Linked DNA regions of Homo sapiens: region 1 is linked to region 2. The links come from fine-mapping of genetic effects on gene expression. A gene starts in region 2. The other region holds a variant in brackets. All regions are shown on one strand. Distances are between the middles of the regions.

Region 1 (8,336 bases), 43 kb after region 2:
TTTGAGGATAAAATAATTTCCTTCAGGGCCTGCTATCTGACATGTGGCACGATACTAGAGTTAGGTTGGAATTTGGTATCTTATTGCTACAAAAGCCTGTTTTGTCAGTCTTAAGATCTCCATTTTAATTTTGTTGTTGTTGTTATATGGTTTTTGTTTGTTTGGTTGTTTGGTTTTTGTCTCTTTTTTTTTTTTTTTTTCTGAGTTTCACTCTGTTGCCCAGGCTGGAGTGCAGTGACATGATCTTAGCTTACTGCAACCTCCAACTCCTAGGTTCAAGTGATTCTCCTGCCTCAGCCTCCCGAGTAGCTGGGATTACAGGTGCACACCACCACGCCCGGCTAATTTTTTGTATTTTTAGTAGAGACAGGATTTCACCATGTTGGCCAGGCTGGTCTCAAACTCCTGACTTCAGGTGATCCACCCATCTCGGCCTCCCAAAGTGCTGGGATTACAGGTGTGAGCCACTGGGCCTGGTCTTTGTTTTGATTTTTTTAGAGAAAAGGTATCCTTCTGTTGCCCAGGTTCCTATTTTAATATTAATGCTGGTCAGTTGTGCCTGAATTCCAAAGAAAGGAGGGTATAATGTGGCATGTCCAACCCCCTTTCCCACGATGGCCTGAACTAATTTTTCAGGTTTACTTTAGAATTCCTTTGGCCAAGAAGGGGGGTCCATTCAGTCCGTTGAGTGACTTAAACTTTTATTTTTGGTTTACATGGGTAGTACATTAGCCAGCCTGGCTGGGGTGAAGGGCTGGCTGGGGAACAGAGCAAGAGAAAGGCATATAGGTGGGACTAGAGGCCTTTAACCCCAACAAGAGAGCTGCTTGGATTACAGTTCATGGTACACAATGGAGGGTAGCTTGGAGGGTGGTGGGCTGAAGAATGGGATGGCCTCTAGTTGGCAATTAGAATAATATGATTCTGGGGGCCATCCAAGGTAGTCAGGAAAATAAGCAACACTGTTCATGCTCATGGTTAAAAAAAAAAATTAGATAACCTGCCAAAAATCAGACAGTGGGGTAAAATTAATTTAATAAACCCTCCCTGAACTTTCTGTGCCTTTTTCTTAGAGGATTTCATGAATCCTTTTGTAGCAGCAGCTCTTAAAATTCCGGGGTCATGGACTCTTGAGACTCTGATGAAAGCTTTTGATAGTCTCTCCAAGAACACAATGAATTAAAGCAAAAAATTGTATGTGGCTAGGCAGCATTTCTCTACTCTCATGTTCCCTTACCTTTATATCTTCTTTTCTTCTTTCTGAAAGAGAGGTCATTTGATAAGGAGTAGGGGTGGGGGGAGCGGCGAGTAGCGGGGAGAAAAAAGATGCTTTCAGCAGAATCAGGCACCAGAGCTTTCCTAGAAGAGGTAGTGAATATTTGCAGCAGAAAGTTTAGGTGTAGAAATTTTATTCTGAAATATAGGAAGCCTCTTCCTGGTGTCAGAGGCATTTGAACCAGAGCAACATCATCATGAATAGGAGCTGGGTAAAATGAGGCTGAGACCTACTGGGCTGCATTCCCAGACGGTTAAGGCATTCTAAGTCACAGGATGAGATAGGAGGTCAGCACAAGATACAGGTCATAAAGACCTTGCTGATAAAACAGTTTGCAGTAAAGAAGCCAGCCAAAACCCACCAAAACCAAGATGGCCACAAGAGTGACCTCTGATCATCATCACTGCTACACTCCCGCCATGACAGTTTACAAATGCCATGGCAACGTCAGGAAGTTACTCTATATGGTCTAAAAAGGGGAGACATAATTAATCCACCCCTTGTTTAGCATATCATCAAGAAATAACCAGAAAAATGGACAACCAGCAGCCCTTGGGGGTTCTCTGTCTATGGAGTAGCCATTCTTTTATTCCTTTACTTTCCTAATAAACTTGCTTTCACTCTACTGTACGGGCTCACCCTCAATTCTTTCTTGTGCGAGATCCAAGACCCCTCTCTTGGGGTCTGGATCAGTACCCCTTTCCTGTAACATTGGGAAGTAAAAAAAAAGCAATACAGGGATGGAAATGTGAAAGGAAAATAAATCTCGAGACCCCAAAATCACAAAGCCAAGGGAAAAGACAGGCTGGGAACTATGTCACGCAAACCTGCCTCCCATTTTATTCCTAAATAAGATGGCTACAAAGATAAAAAGCTCCATACTTCCCTCACAATTTACCTACAAGGAAATTCCTTGTGGACAAAGGACAGACAGAACAGAACTCAAAGTCATCCCTTAGAGGCTCACATGGGACAAATCCGTATCCAATTGCTTCCTCTGCCCTATTATTTATGTAAAATTGCAGATTCACTGAGCCAGACTAAATTTTGTATTCAGTGGAAGGTTGATCAAGGACTCCGAAGAGTCCACTGCAGCCTTTTGTCTTTTGACTACTTATGACGTGGAAGTCTCCGCCTCACGTTGTCCCACCTTCCCAGACTAAACCAATGTACATCTTACATGTATTGATGTCTCGTGTCTCCCTAAAATGCATAAAAGCAAGATGTGTCTGACTACCTTGGGTACATGTTGTCAGGACCTTCCAAGGCTGTGTCACAAGCAGATTCTTAACTTTGAAAAAATAAACTTTCTAAATTGATTGAGACCTGTCTCAGATACCTTTTGGTTTATAGAAACAAGGAGAGAGTCCAAGTTTGGTGGAAGAGGGAAGGGAGCAATTAACTAGATTTTGTAGAGTTTGGTGGATGCCTCGATGGAGAAAGTAAAGAGCTGTACTCAATGAGTAAGAGTGATGGCCTCATAGTCAGGCTTTCTGGAAATGGACTGTACCTTTACACTCATCGAATACTGTAGCCATAACCGAGGGCAGTTTTACCACTTCTTATTTCAGTTCCTTGTGAGCCTTCATCTGCCACAGCATTTGGAATGAGTCTTCCTCCAGTCAGGGCTGCTGATCACAGTTGCACAGGCCGTTCACTGAACAAGGCAGAGGGGACAGTGGAGACTGAAATCTAGCTGTGCTGGGCTTGCCAAAACTCTGTGGGCTGGCATAGGGCGGTGTGCAGGCAGAGCAGGCACCATTTTCTGACTCTCACAAAGGATCCTGCAGGCTGGCAGCGCTGTACCTACCACCTGCCTAAGGCTCTGCTCTTTCTCTTCTGCCTCCGCCTCTTCCCTTCACCCTCGCCATGGCAGAGAATTAGACTTGTCAAGTTTCCACAATATGATGCAGGCTAGAAACACTGGACAGGCTGCCATCTCCCTCCTCCCTCTCCCTTCCCTCTGCTCCTCCCTCTCTCCCTCATCCCTCTCCCATAAGTTCTTCCACATGGATTCACTTTTTCAGAGAAAGTAGATTGAGGTTGAAGCAGAAAAATGACTCAGTATGTGACAAGTGTGTTTCTCCTACCAATAGCATGAAGAAAACAGACGCAGACGGTTTTCAGCAGCCTCTTTTCTCTCGGCCCAAGCCTCAAGCTAACAGAAATGTTGTGAAAAAGAACAGCCGATAAATGGTCCCTGAGTGACAGCCACAGAGTTAAAACCACAGGAGGGCTCTGCCTGCTCCCACAGCTGCAGGGTGATGAGGCTT[T/G]GCTGGGTTCCAGATCACAGGCCTGCAGTGGCCCAGGCTCCAGCGTTAGTCCTGTCTCCCCAAGGAGCCCAGGCCCAGGCTGGCTTCTTCCCTGCCCACTACTCAGGAGGAGCTTCGACCCTGTGGGAACTGGCAGTGTTGCCGCAAAGGCAAGCCCTCTGACTTTCTCGCTTCAGGCAGCCCCTGCTCGCCCTCAGGCACTAGGCACCTGCTTGACCCCTTTCCCAGGCCCATGGGGCATCTGCTCCTCCCATCTCAGGCCTGAGGGAGAAGCAACAGCCCAGAGCTTGACCCGGAGCAGATAATGCAACCGGCTTTGCAAAAATCTTAACTAAGGCAATTATGACAGTGAAAGAGGTCAGACCTAACTGACCCCATCTTCCTTCAAACCTCTCAACTGTCTTTATTCATTTGTGGGTATAGGCTGAACTAGCCTTGGGAAGGAATTTAGTTTATAGTTTACACTCTGAAACAAAATTGATAATAGCCTTTTCCCGAAAAACCCCTTTTTGCCTGGGGACCAGTTTGCCTTTGTAGGATTAACAAATTATCTACAAGATTAGAAATTACAGTTTAGCAGCCATGCAGCCTTTGGCTGCAAGAGTCTGAACCTCTCCAAATTGCTCCTGGGAATGACATCATTGTTGCGAAACCTAACATCAGTGCTTGAGATATTTTGCAGACTCTGCATTCCAATGCAGCAGATGACACCACCTAGACTGATAATCCGGCTCAATCAGTTCTGCAATCCCACCCAGGAGCAGAAGTCAGCAAGAACACCTCAATTCGACCCCCTATGATTTCATCTTCAACCCGACCAGTGAGCACTCTCCACTCTCCGAGCCCATACCACCAAATTATCCTTAAGAACTCTGATCCCCAAATGCTCAGGGAGATTGATTTGAGTAACAATAAGACTCCAGTCTCCCGCACAGCCGGCTCTACATGAATTACTCTCTCTCTCTTTTTTTTTTTTTATTTTTGAGACGGAGTCTCACTCTGTCACCCAGGCTGGAGTGCAGCGATTCAGTCTCGGATCACTGCAACCTCTGCCTCTTGGGTTCAAGCAATTATCTGCCTCAGCCTCCCAAGTAGCTGGGATTACAGGTGCCCGCCACCACACCCAGCTACCTTTTTTGTATTTTCAGTAGAGACGGGGTTTCACCACCTTGGCCAGGCTGGTCTTGAATTCCTGACCTCGTGATCCACCTTCCTCGGCCTCCCAAAGTGCTGGGATTATAGGCATGAGCCACCACACCCGGCCTGAATTACTCTTTCTCTATTGCAATTCCCCTGTCCTGAGAAATCAACTCTGTCTAGGCACCCAGCAAGGTGAACCCATTGGGTGGTTACGGTAATACCCTGGAACTCCAGGACTCTACTTGAGGAGATGTAAGGACAGCAAAACTCCATCCACTTCCATGCTCTTAGGGTCTCAGCTGGGCACAAAGGCTAAATTGATGTAAGATCGATTAACAGGAGAAAAGCATACAACTTTATTTCATATAAGTTTTACATGGCACGGGAGCCCTGCTAAGGAAATGAAGACGCCCAAAGAAGCAGCTAGAGTCAGTTACTTATTAATATATACTGGATTGGACCAAGAGTAGTAAGTTGTGAAGAAGCAACTAAATTATGTAGAGAGGCTTAAAAGATAAGAGTTATTTGAACAAGGTCTGTGCAGAATACTCCTGGTCTCTACTTCTCAACCTCAAAGATAAGGATGTTGTGTCTTTCACACTCGAATTTCATCTGCTTTTTTTTTTTTTTTTTTTGAGACGGAGTTTCGCTCTTGTTGCCCAGGCTAGAGTGCAATGGCGCGATCACAGCTCACTGCAACCTCCACTTCCTGGGTTCAAGCAATTCTTCTGCCTCAGCCTCCCAAGTAGCTGGGGTTACACGCGTGCACCACCACGACTGGCTAATTTTGTATTTTTAGTAGAGATGAGGTTTCACCATGTTGGTCAGGCTGGTCTGGAACTCCCGACCTGAGATGATCCACCCGCCTTGGCCTCCCAAAGTGCTGGGATTACAGGTGTGAGCCACCATGCCCGGCCCATCTCCTGCTTTTAAGAAACAGCACAGAGGTCGGAGTGACCTTGCACCCACTGTTTTCCATATACCTTTAACTTAAAAGTCAATATGCCAGAATGGCATGTTTTGGATGGCATATTCTTAATTCTTTCAGAGATCAGGGGTCCATAGTCATCACCATCATAATCATCATCATGTGCATGTAGGGTGCACTAATACATGCTGGGCAGATACCACGCCCTTTCCATTCCATATTCACTCTCACAGCCACCTCCTGAGGTATTATTGTCTCCATTTCACAGATGACAAAACTGAGACTCAGAAATACTATAAAGCTTTCTCAGGGTCACTGAGTCCCACCAACTCCATCAACCCATCAGAATTCTCTCCTTCCCTCTCTTTAGTTATGACCACGTGTTGTAACTGTATTGCAGCCTTTCTTCAAGTGAAATGGCCTCTAGGAGTCTATTTCCAAGATTCACACTTGATAGGGCATTTTATAGGAAAAGAGAATGGCCAGACAGTCATTGTTAGACTAGACACAGAATAAAAGAATGGCTGGTTAGGCCAGACATGGTGGCTGACGCCTGTAATCCCAGCACTTTGGGAGGCTGAGGGGGGCTGATTGCCTGAGGTCAGGAGTTTGAACCCAGCCTGGCCAACACGGTGAAACCCCTGTTTCTACTAAAAATACAAAAATTACCAGGCGTGGTGGCACACGCCTGTAGTCCCAGCTACTTGGGAGGCTGAGGCAGAAGAATCACTTGAACCCGGGAGGTGGAGGTTGCAGTGAGCCGAGATTGCCCCACTGCACTCCAGCCTGGGTGACAGAGCAAGACTCCATCTTAAAAAAAAAAAAAAAAAAAAAAATATATATATATATATATATATATATATATATATGGTTAAAGGTCAACTGGGCTGTTGTCTGAAAGTCTGCAGGGGGTCAGGGAGCAGGGTAGGTGTGACTTGTTTCCCAGAACAAGCCTTAATCCCATCAAAGTCCATCAGAAAACAGCTTGGGCATTTTATCAGGAGCACTGAGTTTCTCCCCAGAAGGAAGTTGTGAATTACATCACATCCAAAAAAGGGTCTGTCCCAGACCAGGCCTGGGGCAATTTTTCTTTTCAGTGCTATCATGGTGAACATGACATTCTATTGATGACTAGACTATTCCAATTCAATTATATAATCATAACACATGGTCATGGTGTCACAGCAATCACTTGAGAACAGAATAAGCCCAAATCATCTATATGTCTGGCTTATAACAGATATGTAATGAATGTTTTATTCTGTGAATGAGTGAACTTCCCTAAACGGAGAAGGAATGAGTGAATTAGATCATCACTGTTCAAAGTGCAACCTGCCATCCAGGGCAGGTCTGTAAACTGTTACTGGACCATGGCAAGGTGAGAAAGAAAATAAACTTTTTATCTGAGGAATATGAGCCCTTTTAAGTGATCAGGCCCAGAGAGGCATTAAAATGAGACAGCAGTCATGGCTCACTCCACCCCCTACCTGTAGGAAATCAGTCAGGGTGGTAGGAAAAATTATAGGGAAAGACACAAACCTTCTTAGAAGGCAGGGAGGTTTTGCAAAAGCTTCAGGAGAGGATTATGGCTGAAGGCAGCCAAATTCTCTTGTCCGGGGGCTGAGAACAAAAGGCAGATAACAGGGGAATGTAAAGGAACTTATCTAGATAAATCTGTTTACTTATGTCTCCAGAAACCAACCTTTGCTCATTCGTGTGCAGGACTGCTCTCTACTTGGGGGGGTCGACAATGTTAATCACCCCAAATTGTGTTTGCTCCAAGCCTTTGTCGTTAAATCTGTACTAAATAAATGCGAGTGTCTCTGGCTTATGGGAGCTGCTGCTGCTGCACTCTTGCTGGTGGTGCTAAGCGGCAGTCCCCTAGCCACGCTGTCAGGTAAAACACCTGTGTCAGCGTACTTCCTTCATCCATCTCTCAGCCAGAGTCTGGCAGCAACTACCACCTTGAGCTAAGTATTTATTTTGAAGCCTCCTGCTATATAGACTCTAGACTGAATGTCTCCACCAAGTACCCATAAATTTACCTAACATATGCCATATGCTAGACAACATTATTCACACACTATAGTTCAACAACATATAGTCAATTACTAATCAATGTTATCCCTGTAACCCTGCAAAAATTCCTGAAAAAACAACTTTTGCAATTGCCCTCTCTCCTGATTGATCCTTTTTTCCTTAAAAACCTCTCCTTTATTCTCAGGAGAACTTCTCAGTGTTTCCTCGGTTGCAGTCCTTAGCCTTGGCCCAAATGGACTCTATATTAATTTTGCCTCAATTTCCTCCTTTAGGTTGACAAAGGTAAGCACAGAAATCGAGAGAATGACATATGGAAAAAGTTTTATAGCAACTGGACAATGTATGTTGAGTCTAAATAATGCAGGAGTTCGGCCAGCACGGTGGCTCATGCCTGTAATCTCAGCACTTTGGGAGGCTCAGGCAGGGGGATCACCTGAGGTCAAGAGTTCCAGACCAGTCTGGCCAACACGGTGAAACCCTGTCTCTCCTAAAAATACAAAAATTAGCCAGGCATGGTGGCAGGTGCCTGTAGTCCCAGCTACTTGGGAGGCTGAGGCAGGAGAATCGCTTGAACCCGAGAGGCGGAGGTTGCAGTGCGTCCAGATTGCACCATCGCACTCCAGCCTGGGTGACAAGGGTGAAACTCCTTCTCAAATAATTATAATAATAAAGGAGTTAA
Region 2 (8,336 bases):
AGATTTAAGCAATTCTCCTGCCTCAGCCTCCCGAGTAGCTGGGACTACAGGTGCCCGCCACCACACCCTCCTAATTTTTTTGTATTTTTAGTAGAGATGGGGTTTCACCGTGTTAGCCAGGATGGTCTCTATCTCCTGACCTTGTAATCCACCCCCGCCCGGCCTCCCAAAGTGCTGGGATTACAGGCATGAGCCACCTCGCCCAGCCAGTTATGTGTATTCTTAATTATTCACAACATTAAATGTTCACGATTGAAAGGAAGAAAAAATACATTCATTGTCTATTTAACTGCCTGATGCCATGACAAGTATATATAGTCATCATTGTAGAGCAGGAAGTAACCTCATCTGAGAGAAACTGAGCTCTGGAATGTTAGGTAACTCTCTCAAGGCCATGATAGTGGCGAGAGGCAGAGCCAGACTACAATCTCCGCGTCCCGGCCGAGGCTTAGAGTATTAGCCGTTGTTCCAGCAGCATTTCCTCGATGACAGGAGGGAAATGCTAGAGCTTCTTTTTAGTTCTGGGATCTGATCCTTCTTGGGTCTGAACATCTTTCACAACGCCAGCCATCGGCTTATAGAGGAGATTGCTGATTGTCTCCAAAATCCATTCTCTAATTCTTCAGTAATAAAATGTCAAATGTTACCAAGGCCCATGGTTGCTCTGCCTCATTCCCCAGTATACCTGACAGTGAACTCATGTCTGAGGACTGGTCAGCAGGATGTAAGGGAGAGTGGTGAGCACTTCTCTTTCTTTTCTTTTTTCTTTTTTTTTCTTTTTGAGACAGAGTCTCGCTTTGTTGCTGGGGACTGGGGTGCAGTGGTGCCATCTCAGCTCACTGCAACCTCCGTCTTCCAGGTTCAAGTGATTCTCCTGCCTCAGCCTCCTGAGTAGCTGGGACTGCAGGTATGTGTTACCATGCCTGGCTAATTTTTGTATTTTTAGTACAGATGGGGTTTCACTGTGTTGTCCAGGCTGGTCTCGAACTCCTGACCTCTGGTGATCCTCTCACTTTGGCCTCCGAAAGTGCTGAGATTACAGGCATGTGCCACCGCACCTGGCCAGTGAGCACTTTAAAGAACTAGAATGTACCCTTCTCTGTTCCTTTCCTCCTGACCAGTGACTGAAACGCTGAACCAAGCTTGGAGCTGGAGCAGCCATTTTGGGCCACGAGGTAGAAGCCATGTGTTGAAGAGAATGGAACAAGATGGAAGAAACCTGGTGATCAGGGAGCCGCCATAACAGTCTTGGGTTGTCTCTGTTTACATGAGAGGTAAATAAATTATTATTATTATTATTATTATTTTGAGATGCAGTATCGCTCTGTCACCCAGGCTGGAGTGCAGTGGCACGATCTCAGCTCACTACAACCTCCACCTAAGCAATTCGCTTGCCTCAGCCTCCCGAGTAGCTGGGACTATGGGTACCTGCCACCAGGCCTGGCTAATTTTTGTATTTTTGGTAGAGATGGGCTTTCACCATGTTGACTAGGCTGGTCTCGAACTCCTGGCCTCAAGTGATCCACCCACCTCGGCCTCCCAATGTGCTGGGATTGCAGGCATGAGCCATCACACCCAGCCTTTATTATATCCAGTGATTTAACAAAAACCACTTATATTTGGGGTTCTCAGTTATAAGTATTATGTTCGAACACAGAAAGTGAAACTATTTGAAAGTTTCTTGTAGAATTGGCTGGGAAGAAAGGCAATTCATTCCCTTTGAAGGATTTCATTCCCGGGATGTGGCTGCCTGCTTAAAGAGCAGGTTCCATTCTGTAGAGGAAGCTTGGGAGACAAGGAAAGACCCTCATTTCAAAAATATAGCCACTTCACTTCCTGCTGACTTGAGTTTTTGTTTTGTTAAACTGGTTTCTCTTTTAAAACAAATGTCCCCTCAGTAAACTAAGCTCATTTGTTGTTCACACCTGAGAACCAGAGCATCCTCTGCTGATTAGTAAGGAGTTTGGGGGAAGGGGAGTTGCGACTAGGCTGCAGGAGGAAGTGACACTTGGGGGAGGATAGGCCAAGGTGGTGGGATTGATGGGACTCGGAAAGTCCCTGAAAGCAGGGAAACAAAGAAGTGGGAGAAGGGCCAGACAGGGTCGCGCTCACGCTCTAAATCGCACTGGCTCGGCTTTGACTTGCTCTCAAGACACTGGGAACAGCGCGTGAACACCAGAGGGCAGCAGCGCAAGATGAAATTAACAGGGACTCTTCACAGGGCCCCTGGCTTCAGGTCTCAGGGAGAGCCAGCCTTCCCATCCAACCTGGATCTGCCTGGTTTCCTTTGTCCAAAGTCAACCAGGGTGGAAGACTTCAACCAAAGTGGGCAGGGCCCACTTTCATACACATTCCTTCAGGGATTCCTGGTGATGGTCGTTCCCCCTCTCTAGTCCACTGATGCCATCTCTATCACACATTTAACATTGTATTAAAATAGTCTTTAATGTGGGTTATATATGCTTCTTACCTAGCCACACCCTAAGCAATCAGACCTGTGAAATGATGATTTTGGTGTGCTGGTGTGTGTATGTTATAATTATTACATTAGAATATCTATATCACCAGAAAATCATCTATCACCTATAGGATGTATATCACACTTGGAAAAATGTTGCATTACTTCATTAAATTCCCCCCAATGACCCAATGAAGAAAGTGATATTATTCTCCCCATTTTCTAGATGAGGAAACTGAGGCTCAGAGAGGTTAAATATCTTCCTCAAGAATTTTCGCCAGAGCTGGGATTTGAACCAAGGTCTGCTTGACTTAGAAGGCAGTGGTCCTTGCTTTCTCCCGAGGAGAAGGGAGCAGAGATACCTAAAGATGCCTGACTCCCAATCCCATGGGAACATGCCCCCTGCGGGCTCACTTCCTCTCCTCTTTGTCTTCAATTTCTAAGAATGTCTTCTTTTCACTAAAACAAAACACTCCAGAATGCATTCTGCATGAATAAAGACTGCCAACTCCATGGCAGAAATAACATACCTTTTGGGAATGTTTATCACTTCTAAAATGATGATAAAGAAATTCAACAGTTTGTATTTCTGGACGAACTAGGGGAGAAGAGGAAATAAAGTATCTACAGAGTATCACAACACACCTACAGGAAGCTGAGCAAAGTAGACTAATCACACTGGGCCCGGAGGACGGCTGGTAACAGAAACCTCAACGTTTATCTGAAGTGACTGCTCATCCCCGGGCACCACGGTGACAGGTGTGATAGAAAGATAAAACCCTAGACTCTGCTGCTCACCTGCCGTTGGGCCTTGGTCAAGCCACTTCTCTCTGAGCTTCAACTGCCCCATCTGTAAGAGGATAACAATTCCGGCCTCAGGGGGTCATCATAGCAACAAATGAGGAACCTGTAAATTAGTGCGAAAACACCCCACTTACTACTACTGTTTTTAAATGATTGTGAGAGTAAAAAGGGCCTTCGTGTTCAGAACCCAATCAGCTTAGAGTGAATTGTAGCACTTGGCAAATACTGCCTTTTCTGCTTGGAAACTTCACTTAAAAAGAAAAAAAAAATGAGGTCAAAGAGCGATTCCTAAAGCAAAAGAAAATTGCTAAACTTTAGACTATTCCTGACCCCAAAGTCCTCCTTCAGACCATGTTTCCCCTTTTTCACTCATATCTAGCCCAACATGCATAAATCCTTGCTTCTACCAGAGGGCCACACAGAGGAATGGACAGACAGGAAGAGTCTTTGCCCAATTAGTTTCACTTCCTCCCTGGCACCCCATGGTCACAGCCCTGGAGAATTGTTTTCTGCGGCGCTGAGGGCTACATTTTCGTTTTAACCAGCGCAAGGTAGGCAAGAGACTTAAGTCAGAGAGCTTGATGATGTAATGAATTTGCCAGCTGCCAACGACACTAGGACCTCATCACATTTCTTTGTTTTCCTTTCTAACCCCAAATCTAGCAGGCATCCCTGTTCTCATTAACAAAGCCTCCTATTAGCACCATTGCTCCCTAACTACCATCGGACCTCACAGGGAGAAGTTCTGTATCGAGAACAGTAGAGCAAAAAGACAGGAGGAAAGCAAGTCCCCAACATCATGCAGCCCACATACTAGCTCTGGATGGCTTACGTACGATGAAATCTCCAAGATGCCTTCCAAAAACCAGATGACCCTGTCCTTTCTGGAACTACCGCCGTCCCTTGTAACTCTGTAAGCTTCATTTCCAACCTCATCCTGCTCTAACTCGAGCACAAACATAAGTCTGTAGAACCACAGTGGCCTTGGGGGCATCATTCTCTTTGCCTTGTCAACATTTCTATTTTATATCCCTCCCTGCTCCTGTCTAGAGGTTGGTACTCAGTCTCCTGAGACTCATCTTATAGATAGAGCTTGATGGACCACGGGGAGAGGGCATCACTCCTGCTACAGTCTGAATGCACACACCTGGGGCCCAGCTGCCCAACCTTCCACCGCTGAAGTTCAAACAGTTGCATCTTAGACAACTCCTCCACTTCTAATCAGCCCAGCATAGAGGGAGTTTGGAGGTGTCAGACACCCATCAATGGCTGAGAGAGAAAGAAATATAGTGAAAGACCTGTTAGCAGTTCTGTTGTGCCCAACAGAACTCTCATTTGTCTTATGTCTAAAAAGCTGGCCATTGACTTTCAACAGGATTTCACTGATGCTATTAGAAAATATTTTACCACTAAATGAAAATAAAGATAAACTGCCTTTCTGAAGATGCAAAAGGTAAGAGATAATACATAAAAATGCAAGTTGATCAAATTTCACTTGATGTTTGATGACCCTCAGTGTCCCAGAACATTGCTTTGGGAATTATTTTCTCCTTTGATCTTGCAGAACAGTGTGAATGGACATAGAGGCCATTTGTATAAAAGAGGAACCTAAGGACGTAGGGGAAAACAAAAGAATCTGTCAGGGATGGGAAAAGCACACCCATTTAAATATGCAGAAACCTTAATGCCAGTGTCTGGCTAGCTATTAAGCAGTAATTCCTTCTCTATCCCTTATCATATCTACCAGTTACTCTGCAAGATTCTTCAGTGTAAAGAGCACTGTAAAATGTATTTTTCAGATTTATCTCGTCTTTTTGCCAGATCAGCCCACCCCATGCATATCTGCCAGCTGCCTCTTACACAATCCCTCAGAGCCCACGGAGCTGCACTGTGGGCCCTCAGATGATCTGATGCAGGTATAGAACCCCTCCCCCACATTCTTTTCTTGCTAGCTTGCCTCCATTACAAACCATCTTCCTCACTCAGATATTTTCAATCCTGGTAGTTTTTGCTTGTTTGTTTGAGACAGGGTTTCACGCTGTCACCCAGGCTGGAGTGCAGTGGTGCAATCATAGCTCACTGCAGCCTTGACCTCCTGGGCTCAAGTGATTCTCCTTCCTCAGCCTCCCAAAGTGCTGGGTTTACAGGCGTGAGCCACTGCACCTGACTTCCCCAGCAGTTTTGACCGTGATCTCATTTGCCTCTTTCTCCTGATTAGGCCAGCATTAGAGCATCCAAGAGGCTGCATAATATGGAATAAACATAGGTCATTAGATTTAAATCAAAATTCTGGCTTTTTACTTCCTAGCGATGCAAGCTTTGTTGAGTTCCTTAACTTTTCTTAGCACTTCTGCTTTTTAAAAAAAGTTGCTATAATACTAAATCGTAGGATTTTTGAGATAACTAAATGAGAAAATGTGCATAAGACTTGCAGCACCTTAAGTGCTCAGTAAATAGCAACTCTTTTTTTCCCGCTTCTATTTCCCAAAATAGTCCTGGCTGGGAAGACTCATTGTCACAGGCTACACTAAATAGTTTGGTATTATTATTACTCAGATTTCATTCAATACTTTCATTCATCATTCTAAGGAACACAATAACATGTCATTTTTGGCATCTGCCTCTGGGGAAGTAATAGCGTCATTTTTTCATAGATCATTTTCATAACTGGCCCTTTGCCCTCACATAATACCACAGGGTGGGCTCAGACCGAAACTGTCAAGATCCTCAATGGTTTCGCACTTAGCACCAGCCTCCGTTGGTCCCTTGGAAACCGGAACAGTACCAACCAAGAAGTTTCTACTTCGCTTCTACTCAGATGGCACTGCCGAGAAAAGGTGGGAGGGCTGCCTGCTCAAGTGTGGCCTTTAAAGACAAAGTGGAGAAGAAAAAGAGGTGAGAATGTGGTGCAGTAGTCTGTGAACCTGAGATATGCAGCGGTGGGAAATAGCGGCCCCTAAGGAGCCATTTGTATAAACCAGTTCACAGCTACATGCAATGTGCCACCTGCAAACAGAGCCTCTGAGACATAGAAAGGGTTTTCCAATATTGCTTTTACCATAGAAAGGATTATGGCTCATCTTGGTTCTCGGTGAAATTTGGTTTGATGCTGCCTGCACAGTTCCAGAGTTTCTTGGTCTAAGCCAGGGGCCACAGGCCCCCTTACAAACAAGATGTTTTCTTTAAGATATAACTGAGGCTGCTGTAAAAATGAGAGATAAAAACAGAACTTTGTTTTTCTTAGGTAAGAGTGTGAGCATAAGCCTTCCAGAGCTGCCATGTGATTCCATGATGTTGGGGATGTAGTTTCTTCCTGTCTTTTTGCTCTAGTATGCTCCATACACAGCTTCCATCTTGTGATAGCACATGGCTGCCCCAGCTGCCACTATCCCATCCACACTCCAACAGGCAGGAAGAAGAACTAGAGCAAGAGAAGACATCCTGCTTTCCATTAAAGGCAGTCTGGAAATTCCAAGCATCAATTCCACAATCATCTCCTTGGCCAGAACTTAGTAACTGGCCCACACCTAGCTGCAAGGGAAGCTGGAATTGTAATCCTAGGGGGACCATCATGAGTCCATCTGGAACATTACTATGGAAGAACAGAATGCAATATTGGGGAACAGCTAGCACTCTGCACAAAGGACTAGACAGGAATATAAACCAGTGATTCTTGCCAGGTGTAAGGACATATGTGTATCTTTTGTGGGCAGTGGAGCACAGAGCAAACAGGGAGAGCCCCATTTTAAGCAGCAGCCCCTTTCACCTTAGATGATGTGGTCATGCAGAAATTCAGGCTCCATGTTCAACTCTGCTGTTTTCAAAAGAAGCCAGGAATCAACATTTTAAAAAATAATGAAATCTTGGCCAGGCACGGTGGCTCATGCTGTAATCCCAGCACTTTGGGAGGCCAAGGCAGGTGGATCACCTGAGGTCAGGAGTTCGAGACCAGTTTGGCCAACACGGAGAAATCCCATCTCCACTAAAAAAAAAAAAAAAAAAAATACAAAAAATTAGCCAGGTGCATTGGCTTACACCAGTAGTCCCAACTACTCGGGAGGCTGAGGCAGGAGGATTGCTTGAACCTGGGAGGCAGAGGTTGCAATGAGCTGAGATGGCACCACTGCACTCCAGCCTGGGCAACAGAGCGAGACTCCTTCTCAAAAAAAATAAAATAAAATAAAATATAAAATAAAAATATAAAATCTTTCCATTTTAGAATGTTGGTTCAATTTTTTTTTTAGATTCTGTGTGGGCCCAACAGATCTGTGGACTGGATATGGCCCAGTAGCTGCCATTTGGGGCTCTATATTGATTCGATTTGCATGAAAATGTCCATTGTGCTTAACTCTGCCTAAAATGCAAAATTTTGGGAATCCAAAATTAGAGTTAAAAGGCAAATAGGCTTAGTAAAGAGCTGTTACCAAGACAAAGCCTTCAAAGTACTTAATTTGTTTGGCTTGTTAGTCGGGCACTGAAACACAAGAAAATCACAAATTGGTTTTGAATGGGTCACAATGTCCAAGTAGTTACTTAACCAGGAAAATGAACTGGAAGAAACTCTCAAGTTCAATTTTTCAACATGTTTCATGTGTGAGATGGAAATGATATGCATGGCAGCCATGCTAATGCCGCTGGATCTCCTGCTGTGGGGAGCGTGATTGATGGTCACCCCGAAGCTGCCTTTCTGGATCCAACACCATGGCTACAGGGAGGCTGCACTTCCTGCCAGCTGCTCCAACCAATGACTGAGCACAGAAGAGGGACAATTCCAATAGTCCACTTTGGCTCCAGGATTCTTTACCAGCCTGGCCAAACCTTTCTTGTAAACTGACTGCAGTCTCAGGCTCCTCCAACCCAATCCTCCTTCCTTCTCTCCTTCCATTTATTTATTTATTTATTTATTTATTTATTTATTTATTTTGATACAAAGTCTTGCTCTGTTGCCCAGGATGGAGTGCAGTGGTGCAATCTCAGCTCACTGCAACCTCCACCTTCCGGGTTCAAGCGATCCTCCTGCCTCAGCCTCCTGAGGAGCTGGTATTACAGGCACCCGCCACCACACCTGGCTAAT

The links. PIP is the estimated chance that this variant, and not a neighbour inherited with it, causes the effect.
Region 1: its variant is fine-mapped to the expression of LINC02265 in whole blood (TOPMed, PIP above 0.99).

What each region holds. Positions count from the first base shown.
Region 1 is chr4:40,260,580-40,268,915 of GRCh38, reverse strand. No RefSeq gene overlaps it. Among named protein-coding and RNA genes, the nearest start is that of LINC02265, 42 kb to the left of the region's middle. The variant T/G (reference allele first, on the strand shown) is at 3,550.
Region 2 is chr4:40,303,249-40,311,584 of GRCh38, reverse strand. It overlaps LINC02265 (long intergenic non-protein coding RNA 2265), which reads right to left and starts at 4,400. Exons shown (of 4, transcript NR_121641.1): 1 at 4,099-4,400; 2 at 3,257-3,308. RefSeq lists enhancers at 949-1,587, 458-1,657, 1,588-2,226, 3,231-3,360, 3,931-3,980 and 3 more and a silencer at 1,999-2,293.